Homo sapiens: one gene and its partners. The protein of the gene in region 3 interacts with the protein of the main gene of each other region in a pairwise test. Each region holds a gene or a part of one and is shown on either strand. Other genes may lie near its edges.

Evidence for each region.
Region 1: the proteins of UBE2Z (region 3) and DZIP3 interact in a two-hybrid assay, tested with the Homo sapiens proteins (one large-scale study listed by BioGRID and IntAct).
Region 2: the proteins of UBE2Z (region 3) and RNF139 interact in a two-hybrid assay, tested with the Homo sapiens proteins (one large-scale study listed by BioGRID and IntAct).
Region 4: the proteins of UBE2Z (region 3) and HLTF interact in a two-hybrid assay, tested with the Homo sapiens proteins (one large-scale study listed by BioGRID and IntAct).
Region 5: the proteins of UBE2Z (region 3) and TRAIP interact in a two-hybrid assay, tested with the Homo sapiens proteins (one large-scale study listed by BioGRID and IntAct).

The regions. Positions count from the first base shown.
Region 1 is NC_000003.12:108,645,207-108,648,734, reverse strand, and holds part of DZIP3 (E3 ubiquitin-protein ligase DZIP3), read right to left. Parts: intron 2,119-3,528; coding exon 2,086-2,118; intron 793-2,085; coding exon 623-792; coding exon of another isoform or gene 617-622; exon of another isoform or gene 1-616. UniProt on the Homo sapiens protein: E3 Ubiquitin ligase proteins mediate ubiquitination and subsequent proteasomal degradation of target proteins.
Region 2 is NC_000008.11:124,481,369-124,484,896, reverse strand, and holds part of RNF139 (E3 ubiquitin-protein ligase RNF139), read right to left. Parts: intron 1,638-3,528; exon of another isoform or gene 1,490-1,637; intron 1-1,489. UniProt on the Homo sapiens protein: E3-ubiquitin ligase; acts as a negative regulator of cell proliferation through mechanisms involving G2/M arrest and cell death.
Region 3 is NC_000017.11:48,914,907-48,918,406, reverse strand, and holds part of UBE2Z (ubiquitin-conjugating enzyme E2 Z), read right to left. Parts: intron 2,332-3,500; coding exon 2,220-2,331; intron 1-2,219. UniProt on the Homo sapiens protein: Catalyzes the covalent attachment of ubiquitin to other proteins. Specific substrate for UBA6, not charged with ubiquitin by UBE1. May be involved in apoptosis regulation.
Region 4 is NC_000003.12:149,069,511-149,073,038, forward strand, and holds part of HLTF (helicase-like transcription factor), read right to left. Parts: intron 2,148-3,528; coding exon 2,073-2,147; intron 1,934-2,072; coding exon 1,742-1,933; intron 1-1,741. UniProt on the Homo sapiens protein: Has both helicase and E3 ubiquitin ligase activities. Possesses intrinsic ATP-dependent nucleosome-remodeling activity; This activity may be required for transcriptional activation or repression of specific target promoters.
Region 5 is NC_000003.12:49,828,084-49,830,343, forward strand, and holds the end of TRAIP (E3 ubiquitin-protein ligase TRAIP), read right to left. Parts: intron 1,986-2,260; coding exon 1,937-1,985; intron 1,684-1,936; coding exon 1,534-1,683; intron 1,426-1,533; coding exon 1,375-1,425; intron 1,143-1,374; coding exon 1,020-1,142; 3' UTR 518-1,019; downstream 1-517. UniProt on the Homo sapiens protein: E3 ubiquitin ligase required to protect genome stability in response to replication stress.

The DNA of each region.
Region 1 (3,528 bases), on a different chromosome or scaffold from region 3:
TCCTTAAATAATCACTGATGAATAAAGGAACAACACATAATGTCAATAAGTAGGTTACTGATAAAAGTTCACAGATGCTCACTTACACACATGGATGTAACAAAGGAGGAAGACACTTTTTAAAAAGCAACATATTCATGCCTATAAGATGAAAGATCTAAGGATAATTTAGTGACTATATAATAACTGTTACCACTTATTTGTAAAGAAATACGGAGATTCCATTCTGGACGAATTTCATTCTACCTCTGCGCAAATGGTTTTGAAATATCCCACTTTTCTCTTCCTTTCTTTCCTCTCTATTTTAGACTATACTTTCTTCTACTTTCTAATACCTTCCCACATCCACTTCAACTGGGATTAAAAAAACATATTACAGTCTAGCATAATGCCTGCCACATAAGTGTTTAAGAAATGGTGGCAAAATAAATGGTTATGGCAGGAAAGATTATGGAAGGAAGTACTGAGGCAAGGAAGGAAAGGACCATTCCAATTCAAGCTCTGTATAAACACTATGAAAATATAAGCTAAAATTATCTGGGATGCTTTAAGTACAGCACATGCAACAAATTAAAGGCCCAGAATAAGTTCTTCTAACTCAAATATTAATGAGAGCTTATACTTCCTGGAGATCTTTAAGAGATTCTGTTGAAGATTCACTGGGTATTGAGGTCCCATCTTTATTAATTTCTGCAAACTGTATCTCAGGGTGTGATTTCACATTTATATTGTACTCCATGAGAGGTGGACTTAGTTCTTCTTCCTCATTCTGTAACTCTTCTATTTCAATACCTAAACATAAAAGACAAAATTCTCAAAATCTAGATGAAAGCAATTTCAGCTTCTTATCAATGTTATAATGTTTGCCCAAAAAAGCAACATTCACAAAACAGAAATAAAATATATCTTACTCTTTTCAATTACTCGATGAAAATGTGATGTTCATTTATCAGTTACCAAATAATATGTACAAACACCAGCCTGGAACTAATCAGTGTGAACCTGAGTGCTATGTTACCTACTGGAATCTTAGGTAGACTCTAGATATTAGATACTCTAGAACATAAGTAGACTCTAAATACTAACTTTTTGCATGTCCTGACCTTGATCCTATTAATAATGCAACTAGTATTATTTTAGCACATATATCTGAAATATAAAGAAAAAGAAGACAAAAGATCTATTTTTTCTGTTTTCTTTTTCATAAGAGGGGTGTGAGCCCCCTATTATGTGACCTTTTCTTTGAGACTTTGCTCCTTGATATTGCCCCAGAGACTCAGTCTCAAAACTTGTGGACTTTGTCTGACTGGTCTCCAGAGAGTCCAGCATTTTATCCCAAACAAATCTGTGGTGGTGTTTTTTTTAAGTATAATTTTAATTGAATAATATTAATTACACTTAAAAAAAATAGCACAAAAATGGAAATTAAACAATTACAACTTATCACCTGGCAAAAAAAGTATATAGCTATAAACAATAGACAGACTAAATAAAGTTATACACGCTAAACACCAAACAGAGAAAGCAGGAAGGTATTTTTGCCTGCTGAAGTTTTTGTGAGTAAAACGTTAGAACATCATCCTTGGGAAAACCCTGAAGCACATGCACTAAGCCAAAGGCAGAATAAAGCTCATTCTCGATTCAGCCAGACCAGTGGTGATTTGATCACATCATTTTCCAAGTTCTTTTTTTTTGAGACTGAATCTCGCTCTGTCGCCCAGGCTGGAATGCAGTGGCGTGATCTTGGCTCACTGCAACCTCTGCCTTCCATGTTCAAGCAATTTTCCTGCCTCAGCCTCTTGAGTAGCTGGGACTACAGGCACCCGCCACCACACCTGGCTAATTTTTGTATTTTTAGTAGAGACGGGGTTTCACCATGTTGGCCAAGATGGTCTCGATCTCCTGACCTTGTGATCCACCTGCCTCAGCCTCCCAAAGTACAGGGATTATAGGCGTGAGCCACTGCGCCTGGCCCAAGTTCTTCACAATTATAGTTTATCATTTAGTTTATCTGAACAAATAAAAATTTCATAGGTATCCCTTGTTAAAAAGTCATTTACACATTTTATTTCTAAATATACTTACGCTGACTGCCTGTTATTGACTGTAGAGCAATTCCTATAATACATAAAGAAAAATTTTAGATGTACAATTGCAAACGCAACAAATGAATGTCTGGCTAGGATTAAGGCAGAATATTTTTATATTGCACCAATTTATTCTGTAAGTAACTGGAAAAATAACCAGCTTTGCTCATCAATCCAGTTTAGACAAGGCACAATCTTTAGATTATCACATAAAGGTTATAAACCCATGATTAGAGAAAAAAAAGTAAACAAAAATGTGGTATCACAGATAAAGCCTAGAACACAAGCACTTTAAACCAAGCAACGAATATTTATGTTTACCATCTAAGGCCATGAAATAATAGTTAATTACACAGCAAACCTCCACTGAAAGTTGGGACCTATTTTTAGCAATCTGATTTATCTGATCATCACTTGCTCTCCTTGCCCATTAATATTTATTGAGCACCTACAATGTACATCAGGCTGTGTTAAGCTCTAGAGATTGAATGGTGAAGAAAAAAAAAGACAATCTTCATGGAGATTTAGTGGGATGATGGATGTTAATCAAATTATCAGATATCCAAATAAAAAGCAACTAGAATAGCTGAGGAAAGAAATATAAGATGGTAAGAAAGCCTCTAGTAAAGGGACTTGACCAATAAGCTCTTCAGTGTACTTGAGTAAGAACTGCTTAAAATGCTTTGAATTGAATGGGTGCTCAAAACTCTTTCTCAAATACTCTATTCTCATGAATTATTTAAAATCCTAATAGAGTAAATGTATTTTTTAAAACCCTAATTTATAAGTCAAAAATTCTTGCCTGACTTTCTTATATATCAAACTCAGTGTCCTCCTCTTTCATTCTTAGATTATGCAAGAAAACAAAGGTATTCCAGAGCCTTAGTAAATACCAGGACTGAAATTGGGCACATCAATTATCTCTGAAGAAAATCTGGACCAGTTCACTAGAAACTTTTACAGTTGTATGTTTATATAGCATCAGTGTGGTTATCAGTTGTTCATTAGGCTGTAAATAACTTGAGACCAGGAAGTCATCCTGAATAGCACAGCAGGGTTTCAGAGATGTTGTCATGCCTTGAACTCTGCTTTCCAAAAGAATAGCTGAGAAGGTATCCTGAGATGTGGGAAAGGAGGTCTGAAGTCTTTTCCGTATCAATAGACAAGTTTGGGAGTGGCCAATACAAACACTTGCATGAATGTTACCTGATTTTTAAAATTATCTACAGCCAATGAATAGCTGCTAAAATTGTAAACTAAACAAGATTCTGCTAGAAAGTAGAAGAAACATACATCCACACTGTGTCTAAACGAACATCTTTGAAACCACACAGTACTTACATGTCATGGTTTTAAACTTTATTAATTTTGGAGAATAAAACTCCACTTAAAGTGATAAAACTGTACTCAAAAGTCTTCAACAATTTCTTTCTGAAAAATG
Region 2 (3,528 bases), on a different chromosome or scaffold from region 3:
GAAACATCTTCCAAGTTCCCTTTTTCCTGTATAATGCTGAATCTGTTTCTTAAAATAGTCAACTCTTTTTATTGTTCTTCACATTACAAAAGTAACACTCAGAAAACCAAGACATGTTTTTAGAAAATGGTAATTCTCCTTCCCCCACTCCATAGACACCATCTTTCTTTGTACTCTGACAGAAATGCATATTTTAAGTAGGATTACAATAAACACATTATTATCCAAGGTTTCAACAATGGGAATGACATCTGAATACTCACCTACTTTCACTCCTACAACTGCAAATCTCCAAAGTTCTGAAACTCGACTTGCCTTAAACTAGAATCAGCTTTTCCTTGTGATTTGCTATTTCAGTTGAAGGTACCATTATTGTTCTTTTAGAGATACTCCCAACCCAGCCCCACATGCTCAAACTTTGCCAATTAGTTGCCAAATTCTTCTAACACCTCTATCTCCCTTTTCTGTGACACCAATCAATCAGTCTGTCTCAAAAAACCCTCATCTTGTCCAAATCCATTTACAAGCCATCACCAAATTGCCTTTCTTCATTCCCTGCTCAAAATACTTCAGCGGCTCTGAAATTACTATCAACTAAAATCTACATTCTTGCTCCTGGCATTCAAGAACCCAATTTGCTTTACAGTAATATTCCTCCTAACACACACACATCAGTGCTCCAGACTTGGATTCCCCAAACACATTCCTTTCTCCACTATAGCTACAGCAGTGTTTACATTCTTTTTGCTTGGAATGATGTCCCCAACCTCCCAATCCCTGACTATTCAAATCCTACCTATCCTAGAAACCTACTTTCTTTGATAGAAACTGTTCTTTCAGCATACCTGCAGAACTTAGTGAAACATTTAACACTCATATATCACCTGATATTGTAGTCTGCAGTTATCTAAGTATAATCTACCCTATTACACATGTATCTATAACAGAAAGCAAAGATCCTACCCTGTCCATCTATGGATTCTACAATATTTTGTACAAAATAAGTACAATTAGTATTCATTAGGAAATGTCTGTCACATCTGGATGTTTTTAAAGGCAACCACAAAATATAGCCTGCTTGAAAAATAAAATCTATGTTTCAGACAATGAGAAACCATACCCTGGAGTACAGAAAAAGTGACAAACTCCAAATTAAAAATCCATCTTGGCTGGGTGTGGTGGCTCACAATGGTAATCCCAGCACTTTGGGAGGCTGAGGCGGGTGGATCACTTGAGGCCAGGAGTTCAAGACCATGTCAACATGGTGAAACCCTGTCTCTACCAAAAATATAAAAATATGCCAGGGTGGTAGCACGTGCCTGTACTCCCAGCTACTCAGGGGGTTGAGGTGGGAGAATCGCTTGAACCCGGGAGGCATTGCAGTTAGCTGAGATCGCACCACTGCATGCCAGCCTGGGTGACAGTGAGACCCTGTCTCAAAATACATAAATAAATAAATATTAAATAAAATAAAAATCCATCTATCCACCTTATTTCAGCAGGTAATCAAGACATTGCATATTATTACAGTAGACGCATTTCACAATCCACTGCACATATAAGCAAGGGCTAGTTCATTTAAGTGATGACTCTGTCCAGGGATTTAAAATGTATTCTGTGCCAAAATGTCAAGTCATCTGTGAAAAGGAAAACAAAAGGACACAATAAAGTAGAAGACATATAAACCTCTAAATACAAACCACCTGATTCCCCAAGAAAATGGGCCACTAATAATCCCCCAAAGAGTTGTGAGCTCAGAACAGGCTCTTTTAAATATATATATTTTTAATATATATATTTTTAAATATATATATATTTAAATAATATATATATATTTTTAATAGATATATTTTTAAATATATATATATTTAAATATATATATATATTTTTAATATATATATTTTTAAATATATATATATTTAAATAATATATATATATTATATATATATATATTTTTTTTTATATTTTTTTTAATGGAGTTTCGCTCCTGTTGCCCAGGCTGGAGTGCAATGGCGTGATCTTGGCTCACTGCAACCTCTGCCTCCCAGGTTCAAGCGATTCTTCTGCTTCAGCCTCCCAAGAAGCTGGGATTACAGGTATGTACCACCACTCCCAGCTAATTTTGCATTTTCAGTAGAGACAGGGTTTTTCCACGTTGGTCAGGCTGGTCTCAAACTCCTGACCTCAGGTGATCCACCCGCTTCGGCCTCCCAAACTACTGCGATTATAGGCGTGAGCCACTGCGCTCGGCCCTGAAAAGATTTTTTTATTAGAAACTTCTTCCATGGAAGGTAACAAGAAAATGGAATTAATTCAGCCTACCAGATGCCATATGTAATCTTACATTCTCTACATGGAAAACCACCTTATTTTCCTGAGACAAAACTTCAGAAACTTTAAAACAAATCTTCTAAGTTGGGTCAAAACCAAAACAAAATAACTCTAGTTCTACTTTATGCCACTTAGAGGGGAGAAAGTCAAGCAGGAACTGTAAATTATTTTTGTCAACTTGCTATTCACAAAGTAGTAAATTAATCTTCAGTAACTATTCATGAGCTTTGCCATAATTTTATAACTAATTTTTAAAATTCTAATAACTTTTTTCCTGAAGCTTGTTTTTACTACACACAAATGAAGAAATTATTTGGGTTTTAGAAACATTTCTAGTGAAAAAGTGCCATTTTGCTTTATGCAAATGTATCAAAGAAAAAAAGGGGAAGGCATCAGATAGACAAATAATGTAGTAAGACTACAACCTCAAAATTTGGATGTATCCCAGCAAGTAACAATCTGACAATACTCTATCCTGATTAAAATCACACCCCCCAAGATGTAATAGTGAGTTAACATTTCAAGAATAGTATATGTTTGTTTTAATTCCTACCCAAAGTTTGTAGGTATATGGGGTTCATAGATTTTCCTTTTATAGTCACGTTCCTACCTATGGAATTTGGGAAGAATCTGCTCTCATTTTAAAAACCAATATCCTAAGTAACAAGTCTCCAAAGTAATCATCTTTCTCATGGCCTTTGCAGAATAATATCAAAGTTTCACTGCATTTTTACATTAGACATGAAAGCCTTTCTTGGTATTTAAACTGTAGGTCTAAGAAAATATAAAAGTCCAGAGACAGTTTCTCATTAGGATTTGGAAGTGACTTGCACAAGTAATCAAGACTGTATATAAATGCTGCTTTATAAAAAATTTTGAGAACAGAATTTACTGAAATCACAACTCAGAGATCTCAGTCCAATTCTCCAGTGATTAAGAGAGTTCACTAGAGTTTTCAAGGTAGCCAAAAAGAGGCAGGTATCCAAATCAATTCAGGAACTTTGAAACTATATATGAACTCAACTCATGAAAGAGTTCAGGCCTTTTCAATTTGGATTACCAAAAACAGGCAAATAAAAACAAAAGAAAAAATAAAAACTTACTATACATGTTACATAACAAAGTGTTTCACTCTTTTATGTGTAAAGTCTATTCATACCCTTACCCTCTTTTGGAAACTTATGACTAAAAATCAGG
Region 3 (3,500 bases):
AGCCGAGATCACACCACTGCACTCCAGCCTGAGTGATGGAGTGAGACTCTGTCTCAAAAAAAATTTTTATTTTTCATTTTTGAAAGGCATTTTATTATCCTTTGTTCAGGTCTATAGAGGAAGAATCAAAGTTGGTGTCATATGTAATAGTTTAAAAATAAATTAAGTTGGCCAGGCATGGTTGCTCACGCCTGTAATCCCAGCACTTTCAGAGGCCAAGGCGAGTGGATCACCTGAGGTCCGAAATTCGAAACCAGCCTGGCCAAGATGGTGAAACCCCTTCTCTACTAAAAATACAAAAAATTAGCCAGGTGTGGTGGTGCGTGCCCGTAATCCCAGCTACTCGGGAGGCTGAGGCAGAGGAATCACTTGAACCTGGGAGGCAGAAGTTGCTGTGAGCCGAGATTGTGCCATTACACTCCAGCCTGGGTAACAATAGTGAAACTCTGTCTCAAAAAATAAATAAATTAATTAAGCTGTTCTAATCACCTATCCGGAATCATTTTCTTTTGGGACTATCACTGGAACTTTTTCCCGTGCTCATGAGTAATTCAGGAAGGCACATCGGAAGAGTGGGAGAAGTTGGGCTCCAATGTAAGTCTGGGGTCCTATCCTGATCTGTGTGTCTTTGTGAAAGTTAATTAACCTCTCTGAGGCAACATTATTTCACTTGAAAATGGGAATAACCATATTTAACCTCACATAGTATGAAGGTTAAACAAGAAATTATATATAAAAACTTGGTAGTGTCCAGCACAGAGCATGCTCTTGGAAAAATGTGAGTTTTCTCCACCTTCTCGTTGGCACTGTTAACTCAAAAAGTCTTGCCCGGGACTCCTAATGACTAGCTCCTTTGACTCTGCAGGTAACAGTCCTTCATAACCCCAGAAGAACAGCTGGCTGGGTAGTAGTCCCTACAGAGCAACTTTAGGGGATGCTGAGAATATAGGCACATAGAACCCACTGGATGCCACAACCCCCAAAGCAGGTCAGAATTAATTTCCAAAGGAGTCCATTGACTTCCATGCTATAAAGGAATCCAAGTCACATACTTATTGTAACTCTCACAAATAAAAAAATTCATTATTATTATTATTTTTTTAAGACGGTGTCTCGCTCTGTCGCTCAGGCTGGAATGCAATGGCCCAATCTTGGCTCACTGTAAGCTCCACCACCTGGGTTCACGCCATTCTCCTGTCTCAGCCTCCGAGTAGCTGGGACTACAGGCGCCTGCCACCACACCCAGCTAATTTTTTGTATTTTTAGTACAGACTGGGTTTCACTGTGTTAGCCAGGATGATCTCAAACTTCTGACCTTGTGATCTGCCCGCCTCGGCCTCCCAAAGTGCTGGGATTACAGGTGTGAGCCACCGCGCCTGGCCATTATTATTTTTTTGGGGGTGGGGGGACCGAGTTTCGCTCCTTACCCAGGCTGGAGTGTAATGGCGTGATCTCAGCTCACTGCAACCTCTGCCTCCAGGGTTCAAGTGATCACACCCAGCTAATTTCTTTTATTTTTAGTAGAGACAGGTTTTCACCATGTTGGCCAGGCTGGTCTCAAACTTCTGACCAGTTAATTTTTAGTAGAGATGGGGTTTTACCAGGTTGGCCAGGCTGGTCTCAAACTCCTGACCTCAGGTGATCCACCTGCCTGCCTCAGCCTCCCAAAGTGCTGGGATTACAGGTGTGAGCCACAGTGGTCGGCAAAAAATTTCATTACTAAAAAACACGTGTCAATTCCCTTTTTTTCCCTATACCAACAAATGTAGTACATGGGGCTGTGCTAGGTCCAAAACAAAACAAAACAAAACAAAACAAAAAAAACCTCCCAAGCAGATCTCTTAAAACACTATTCTGGCTGGGCGCGGTGGCTCACGCCTGTAATCCCAGCACTCTGGGAGGCCGAGGCAGGCGGATCACCAGGTCAGGAGCTGGAGACCAGCCTGGCCAATATGGTGAAACCCCATCTCTACTAAAAATATAAAAATTAGCCAGGCATGGTGGTACACGCCTGTAGTCCCAGCTACTTGGGAGGCTGAGACAGAATGGCTTGAACCCGGGAGGCGGAGGTTGCAGTAAGCTGAGATTGCACCACTGCACTACAGCCTAGGTGACAGAGGAAGACTCTGTCTCAAAAAAAAAAAAAAACAAAAAAACCAACCAACCAAACAAACAAAAACAATAGTCTACACCCCAGAGCCAGGCCCATCTGGCCTTACCTGTTCAAAGCCGGGCTCATTGTGATAGGGGTTCTCAGTCATCAGGGACTGGATAGAGATGAGCACTGAGGAGATGCTCTGGGCTGGGCTCCAGGCAGGTCCAGTCCATGTACTGTAAACACATCAGAAGGAATGGAGGGTGAGGCAGAGAAAGAATAGGGAACAAGTACCCTGGGGCCCGGCAACACCACCATAAGTGACTCACCATAAGTTTCTCTTTCACTATTAATACTCTGGAATTTCCCAGCCTCTGTCTCATGCTCATGTTCTGATTTCACCAGAAATCAGTCAATTGCCTAATCCTCAAATCAAGGGGGGGGGGCAAAAGAACAGGTAATAGCAAGCTATGTAACTTTGAAGGGATTTTCTTTGTACTAGAAACAGTTACGACAATCAAAACAAAAGAAATTAGGTAAGCAATTAGCTCCAAAGTTGTCTAAATGTTAATCTCCGTGGATCTCAAAGAGCTTGTTTATGGGTGGTGATGGAGTTAGTGAGGGGAGAGGGAAGTTGAGCATAAAGGGACACAGGTGACTGAAGCCATCTGGTTAGAGGCCATGTGGTGGGGCTATTGGGGATCCAGTTCTGTATCAAACCCCCAAGGAGTGTCAAATTCTCTTAAGACTACACAACTCTTCCAAAGAACAGGAAGAGAATAAGGGGTGCTTCCAGACAGTGGAAGGTCTGAAAATAATATATGGAAAACGTCAAATACCAAAATTGCTCCTCTCTTTCATAAACCCAACCAAGTATTAGGGGGAGGGGACAGCTTGGATGTTAATGACATTTATTTTTAGCTCAATTAATTGAAGAGATGGCACCGGAGCTGGAAGCCGAACACAACCTAAGCCAGGACTGGCTTGTTCAAGTTGACTGCCTGCTTCTGTTTCCCTGCTGTACTTGAGGAAAGCCCAAGTCAGTAATGCCTAATAGTAACTTCACTGGGGACTGCTCTTAAGTGCCTCTATCTTTTCAGCTTTGCTCCCCCAGGAACTCTAGACCTACTGCTCTCTGAAGCTTTACAACAGAGTCAACTCTCGTTAAATTTCTTTTGTCAGTAAGTCAGCCCAACATTGTTTTCTAGGTAAAGAGGAAAAAAAAAACATGGCTGATAAAGCTAATACAGTCAACTAGGAACACCTAAGAATTTTCTTTTCTTTCTTTTTTGAGACAAAGTCTCCCTCTGTCACCCAGGCTGGAGTGCAGTGGCGTGATCTTGGCTCACTGCAACCTCTGCCTCCCAGGTTCAAGCAATTCTTGTGCCTCAGCCTCCCGAGTAGC
Region 4 (3,528 bases), on a different chromosome or scaffold from region 3:
CAGTACACATTAATTTTATTAAGTCTCATTACTTCAGTACAAATCTTTTTAATATTCTGTGTAGTGAAATGGAAACTACATATTAACTACTTCTGTTGCATATCAAACTATGAGGGTTAGCTAGAGAAAAATCACTCAAGATGGGAGTTATAAGCTCAACTAGTCACTTTTTTCATGCGACACCATTTTTACTTGAATGACAACTATCAATCACGACTGAGTGTCTGAAAGATACTTTCTAGAAAATGAACAAAGTGAGGCTGTCATCTACAAAGGAAACAACTGAGCTTGTCAATGATAAAATGTGAGTTTTCAATAGAAAATTAGAATGTTGGAAAAGTTGTGTGTGACACTATGAACATAGTGCCTTCCCAAAATGTAAATGATTTTCTAATAACATCAGTGGTAATATTAATGAATGTAAGTTTTGGATATTGCATATGAAATACATCAACATTTAGTAGGTCTGCCCAACTCAATGAACCAACATTTTCTAAATGAGCAATGCCTGGTGTTATAAAATCATACATGGGTAAAATATTCATTCAATGAGCAAGATACACAAATAGATTTTAACAAAACAGGGTATAAAAAGCTCACTGATATGATTTAGCGTTCCATATTACAACAATTAACCTTTAATAAACTAATATTTATTGAATTTTGATGCAGTATATCAAAGAAATCTGCAATTATCTAAAAAGCTATTACAATACTCCTCTCTTTACAGCAACATACCGTCGTAAGGACAAATTTTCTTCATATACTTCAACCAAAACAACCTAACAGAACAGACTGAATGAAGAAGCAGGTGAGAATTCAGCTGCCATCTATTCGGCCAAACACAGAGATGTGCAAAAATGTGACAATGCCAGTTGTTGCAACAAAAATGTTAATGTTTTGGCATAGTTATTTTTCTTTTAAAAATATGCTATTTATGTTAACAAGCAATGAGTTTGTACTGCTATCTTTAGCTACCACTGCCTAATACTATAACTACTGATAACAGCACACAAAAGCAAAAGCTCTTTGAAATCAGTAATTTTTATGAGTAGAAAGGGTTACTGAGACTGAAAAATATAAAAACTGCTAGTGTAAGGACACATAAGTATCTATTTAATACTCTGCATAACACAATATTTGTGATGGAATACAATTTCACATAACATTGTTTTGTCTTTACTTTTTAAAAGAAAACCTATGAAAGACAGGTCACCCTGAATTTCAAAGAGCAAAGAAAATTGAGAAACATGGCCAGGCAGGGTGGCTCACATCTGTAACCCCAGCACTTTGGGAGGCCAAGGCGGGCGGATCACTTGAAGTCAGGAGTTCAAAACCAGCCTGGCCAACGTGGTAAAACCCTGTCTCTACTAAAAATACAAAAATTAGCTGGGCATGGTGGCACATGCCTGTAATCCCAGCTATTTGGAAGTCTGAGACAGGAGAACTGCTTGAACCTGGGAGGCGGAGGCTGCAGTGAGCCAAGATCGCGTCACTGCACTCCAGCCTGGGTGACAGAGCAAGACTCCATCTCAAAAAAAAAAAAAAGAAAACTGAGGAACACATCTTTATACCACTATTTTAACTAAAAACTACAGGAAAAACTGTGTTCTACAAAGATAGTAAGATCTAGTCCCAAACTGGTACCAACATATTCCTATCTCTTTTTACTTCAAAATTACTTTCTAGAAAATCATAATCACAAAATTAGATTTTATTAACTAAAGAAAAAAATAATTACCAAACCCATATCATCAGCTAAAATTCCTCCATGGACATTTTCTGGTCGGTCCTTCTCAGAAAAATTTGTTATTGTGTTATAGTATAAGTCATTTCGCTGTTCCCAGAATGGTGGAAGTTCTTTGCTATTTTCCCGTGACACCATCCAAGCTAGAGCTTGTTTTTGATGTGGAAGCAGTGGTGTTTCAATAGCCTATAAATAAAAAGTCATAAAGCGAAATACATTAAGCCATTCCTTTTTCACATGCAGATCCTGTGATTAAACAAAAAGTAGATTCTAAGTATATTTAAACATTCTGAGTAGTCTTAAATAAAAAATATTGGTTCAATACCTCAGCTGGTTCCATTTCATGGGTTTTATCATCTTCTTTTAAATCTTCAAACAATTTGTCAAATTCTGTTTTAAGCTACAATAAACAGCAACAAGAAACAATGTAAAACAAACTAATTAAAATAATACTTGCATTTAAGTCAGATTTGAAATCATTTAATTAACTGGCGTTAATGTCAAACGGGCCAGGAGTGGTGGCTCATGCCAATAATCTCAGCACTTTGGGAGACCAAGGTGGGAGGATCACTTGAGCTCAGGAGTTTGAGACCAGCCTGGATAACATAGTGAGAGATCCCATCTCTACAAAAAAATTTTTAAAAAATTAGCCAGGCATGGGGGTGCATGCCTGTAGTTCTGGCTCCTAGGGATGCTGAGATGGGAGGATCACTTCAGCCTAGTAGGTAGAGGATAGAGTGAACCATGATTATGCCACTGCACTCCAGCCTGGGCAAGAAAGTGAGACCCTGTCCCAAAAAATTAAGAAATTGAAATTAAATTAAATTTAAAAACCACAAACTAGTCAAACGCCAAAAAGGCACATAAATCAACTCTAGAATTACACTACTCACTGAAGAGCGAATGAACAGGTGCTTTAGTTGTTAGGAGGTAAAAGAATATAAAAGAATTTTAAGTCCCGAGTTTCAGTCACAGTTTTATCACAAATAAGCTTATATGTAAGTTTCAGCAAGACTTGACCTTTATGGCCCCATGTCTTATTCCTATAAAATGAAAGGGATGAACTAAATTTAGATTGTCTCTAAGGTTCCTTCTGCCATTAAAATTCTGTGATGCTATCAGTTGTATTCAAAATATTTTCTCAGTCCTACCAGGTCAATGACATTCCATTTATTATTACTGCAATAAGGAACTTGCCATGCACTATAGGATACTTTTATTATTATGCTAACTTAATTGACTATTTAAACTAGGTTAGTCCAATTTTATATCAACATATATGTGATACAGATATTTTTGAAAATTAACACATGAACACAGCAGCAGCTCAGAAGAAATCAGGCCAGGTCTAAAAAATCAGAAGTAACCGGGGGCTTATCTACCAGAAACAAGCTCAAGTCCTTCTAACAATAAGCAGGGTAAATATGGTAACTACAATTAGTAGATAAAAGGACTAACACTGGTAGATACAAACATCAAAAAAGTTTTAATGTTATTTTTAAATTGATCTGCATTAATTACTTTATATACTTTTTTTTCAAAGAAATTCAGCATAACTCATCCTAAATTACAAATTAGACAATGTGAAGAATTTGGAGTTAAATCTTTAGCACTGCATTTGCAAAATTACTGAAAGGAGTTAAGTCTCAGCTTCAATTTTTTTCTTAAAATTACTACTTGAACATTTAAAACATTTCAGATACAAAAATATGCCGTGCATAAACAGGAACGTGTGTGTTTTGTATGTTGGGTACAAATGTTCACGTATGGATTTATTCCTT
Region 5 (2,260 bases), on a different chromosome or scaffold from region 3:
GGAGGCTGAGGTGGGAGGATCACCTGAGCCTGGGAGGTTGAGGCTGCAGTGAACTGTGATTGTGCCACTGCACTCCAGCCTGGGAGACAGAGGGAGACCCTGTTGCAAAAAGAAAAAAAAAAAAAAGAAAGAAAGAAAAAGAAAGAAAAGAAAGAAAGTGCCTTTGCAGCCAAAAGTCAAAAGCTAGCAATTTGGCTGGTAGCGTTTAAACGTGGGTAGGAACGGAAGGTAGTGGTCGCTGGTTATTTGCTGTGAGTACACTGTATAGATAGATTTCCATTTACTCGTTCACTTTCCTACTTATGGCCTTTAGGCTGTGCCCAGGTTAGAGACTGTGAGAAAAGCTGCAGTGATCTCATTCTTTCTAGAGTCTTCCTGTGCCCCATGAGAAGGCATATGCCTAGGGAAGGAACTGCTGGATCTGAGGCTTGGCGATGTTCCTGCTTTAGAAAGTCATGCCAAACAGTTTTCTAAAGTGTTGGTGCAAATTTACACTCTCAGAACCAGGAAGAAGAGATTGTTTTTTTTTTTTAATTTTATTTTACATGAAAATCTTCCATCCTCTCCATACATCCCATGCTATCCTCCATTCCCCACCCTGCTTGGCCCAGGCTATGCCTAGAAGCAAGTCAAAGGCAGGTAGAAGCTTGGGCTGAGGCTGCCTGAGATGCCTCAAGCACTCTGGTCCACAGAGACAGTCAACAAGTGACCGTGGTCTCCAGGCCCAGAAAGAGTCTGACCACATCTGATCATGGCTATAAACAGGAGCCTGGCAACAGGAGCAGGACCTGCTGACAGGATCAGTGGGCTGGTCATGTCAGCTCCCAGTCGTAGGAGTGGGGCAGGGTGAGGGCAGGAAGAGCAGTCTCTGGGTGCCACACTCACCCTCACCTGTTTGTCTGCCCTTACACCTCAGGCTGGTCCCGAAAGTGGGGCTCTGTCCACAAAACCCCTGCCTGGACAGTCCTTGACCTACAAGTTGCAGGCATGTGTCTGGCCATTGGTCAGACTCACTGTTCTCACGACCACAGGAAGGTGTCCAGCTTGGCCTGGAAGAGAGAAGGCACTGTCTTCACCCTCACCCTCTGCTTAACCTTGGTCTTGGGCTTAACAGGCAATGGGCGGATCATGACTGTGTCAGTCTGGAGGAGCTGTCAAGGAAGAGGCATGGAGAAAGGACTGCAATGCAGGGCGAGAAAGGACTGCAATGCAGGGCAAGAAAGGCTCAGAGCCGGGGGTGGGCGGCGCTGATACACAGAATGAGGCCCAGCACTGCACACCTGAGGCTGTTGGCACTGGCAGGCTGGGGGTATAGGTGAGGCATAGTATGGGCTCCACAGTTCAGCTCAGCTCAACATCACAGGAAAAGGATACAGGCTGGATGAATTTTGTCCGGCCACCGAGCCCATCGAAGCCTGTCCTTACCTAGGGTGGAAGGAAGAGATGAGTGGGCCAGGCTAATGGGCTGGGGGGCTGGCCACCCATTTCTACCCAAGAGGGCTGGCTCCTGCCACTGTGGGAAGCCACACTCACCACATCTTTGCTGCAAGAGGACTCTGACCTGGGCCTCTTGGGCTGTTTCTGGCCTAGGATGGCATTCCGGACAAAAATAGGGAAGGCACCAACCAGTTCCTCATCTGGCTCTCCTGCACAGCTCTGGCCACCCAGTGAGAGCTGGGACTCCTGCAGGGAAGACCCCAGGGCCAGACTTGATGAGCTGGATGTCAGCAAAGGAGGGAGGGTAGTGGTGGTGGAACAAGATCAGGATCTCTGATGCCTCACTAGGAGGCAGGAGGGATAATGAGTAGAATCCCAAGGGTGGCTCCGAAGTACCTCAGTCCTGGACCAGGAGTGACAAGGCTCTGGCAAGACCGTGCCCTCCCAAAAGTCCAGTCCTGCCAAAGGTTAGACTGTGCTTCTTCTAGAAAGCTCTTACCTTCCTGGGGCCTTTGCATATCTTCTTGGGGACATCCTGAATTGGGGAGCTACAAGAATGAGAGAGAAGGCAAGGGGTAGGTAAGCAAGACATGGGGGCAGGTGAACCAGGCTCAGCACACGCCCCTTGGGGAGTTACCATGTGGCACTGCTGCTGCCATGCCTGCATTCTGGGCAAGGCACCTCAGTGATCCCACCCCAAGTGCAGGTCTGTTAACAGCTGGACAGCCACAGCCAGTAGGGTGGCAGAGACAGGGATGACTGGGGATGACTGGACCATGTCCCAATCCTGTGGCTTCCACTCAAGGCCAAATTCCAACGCTCC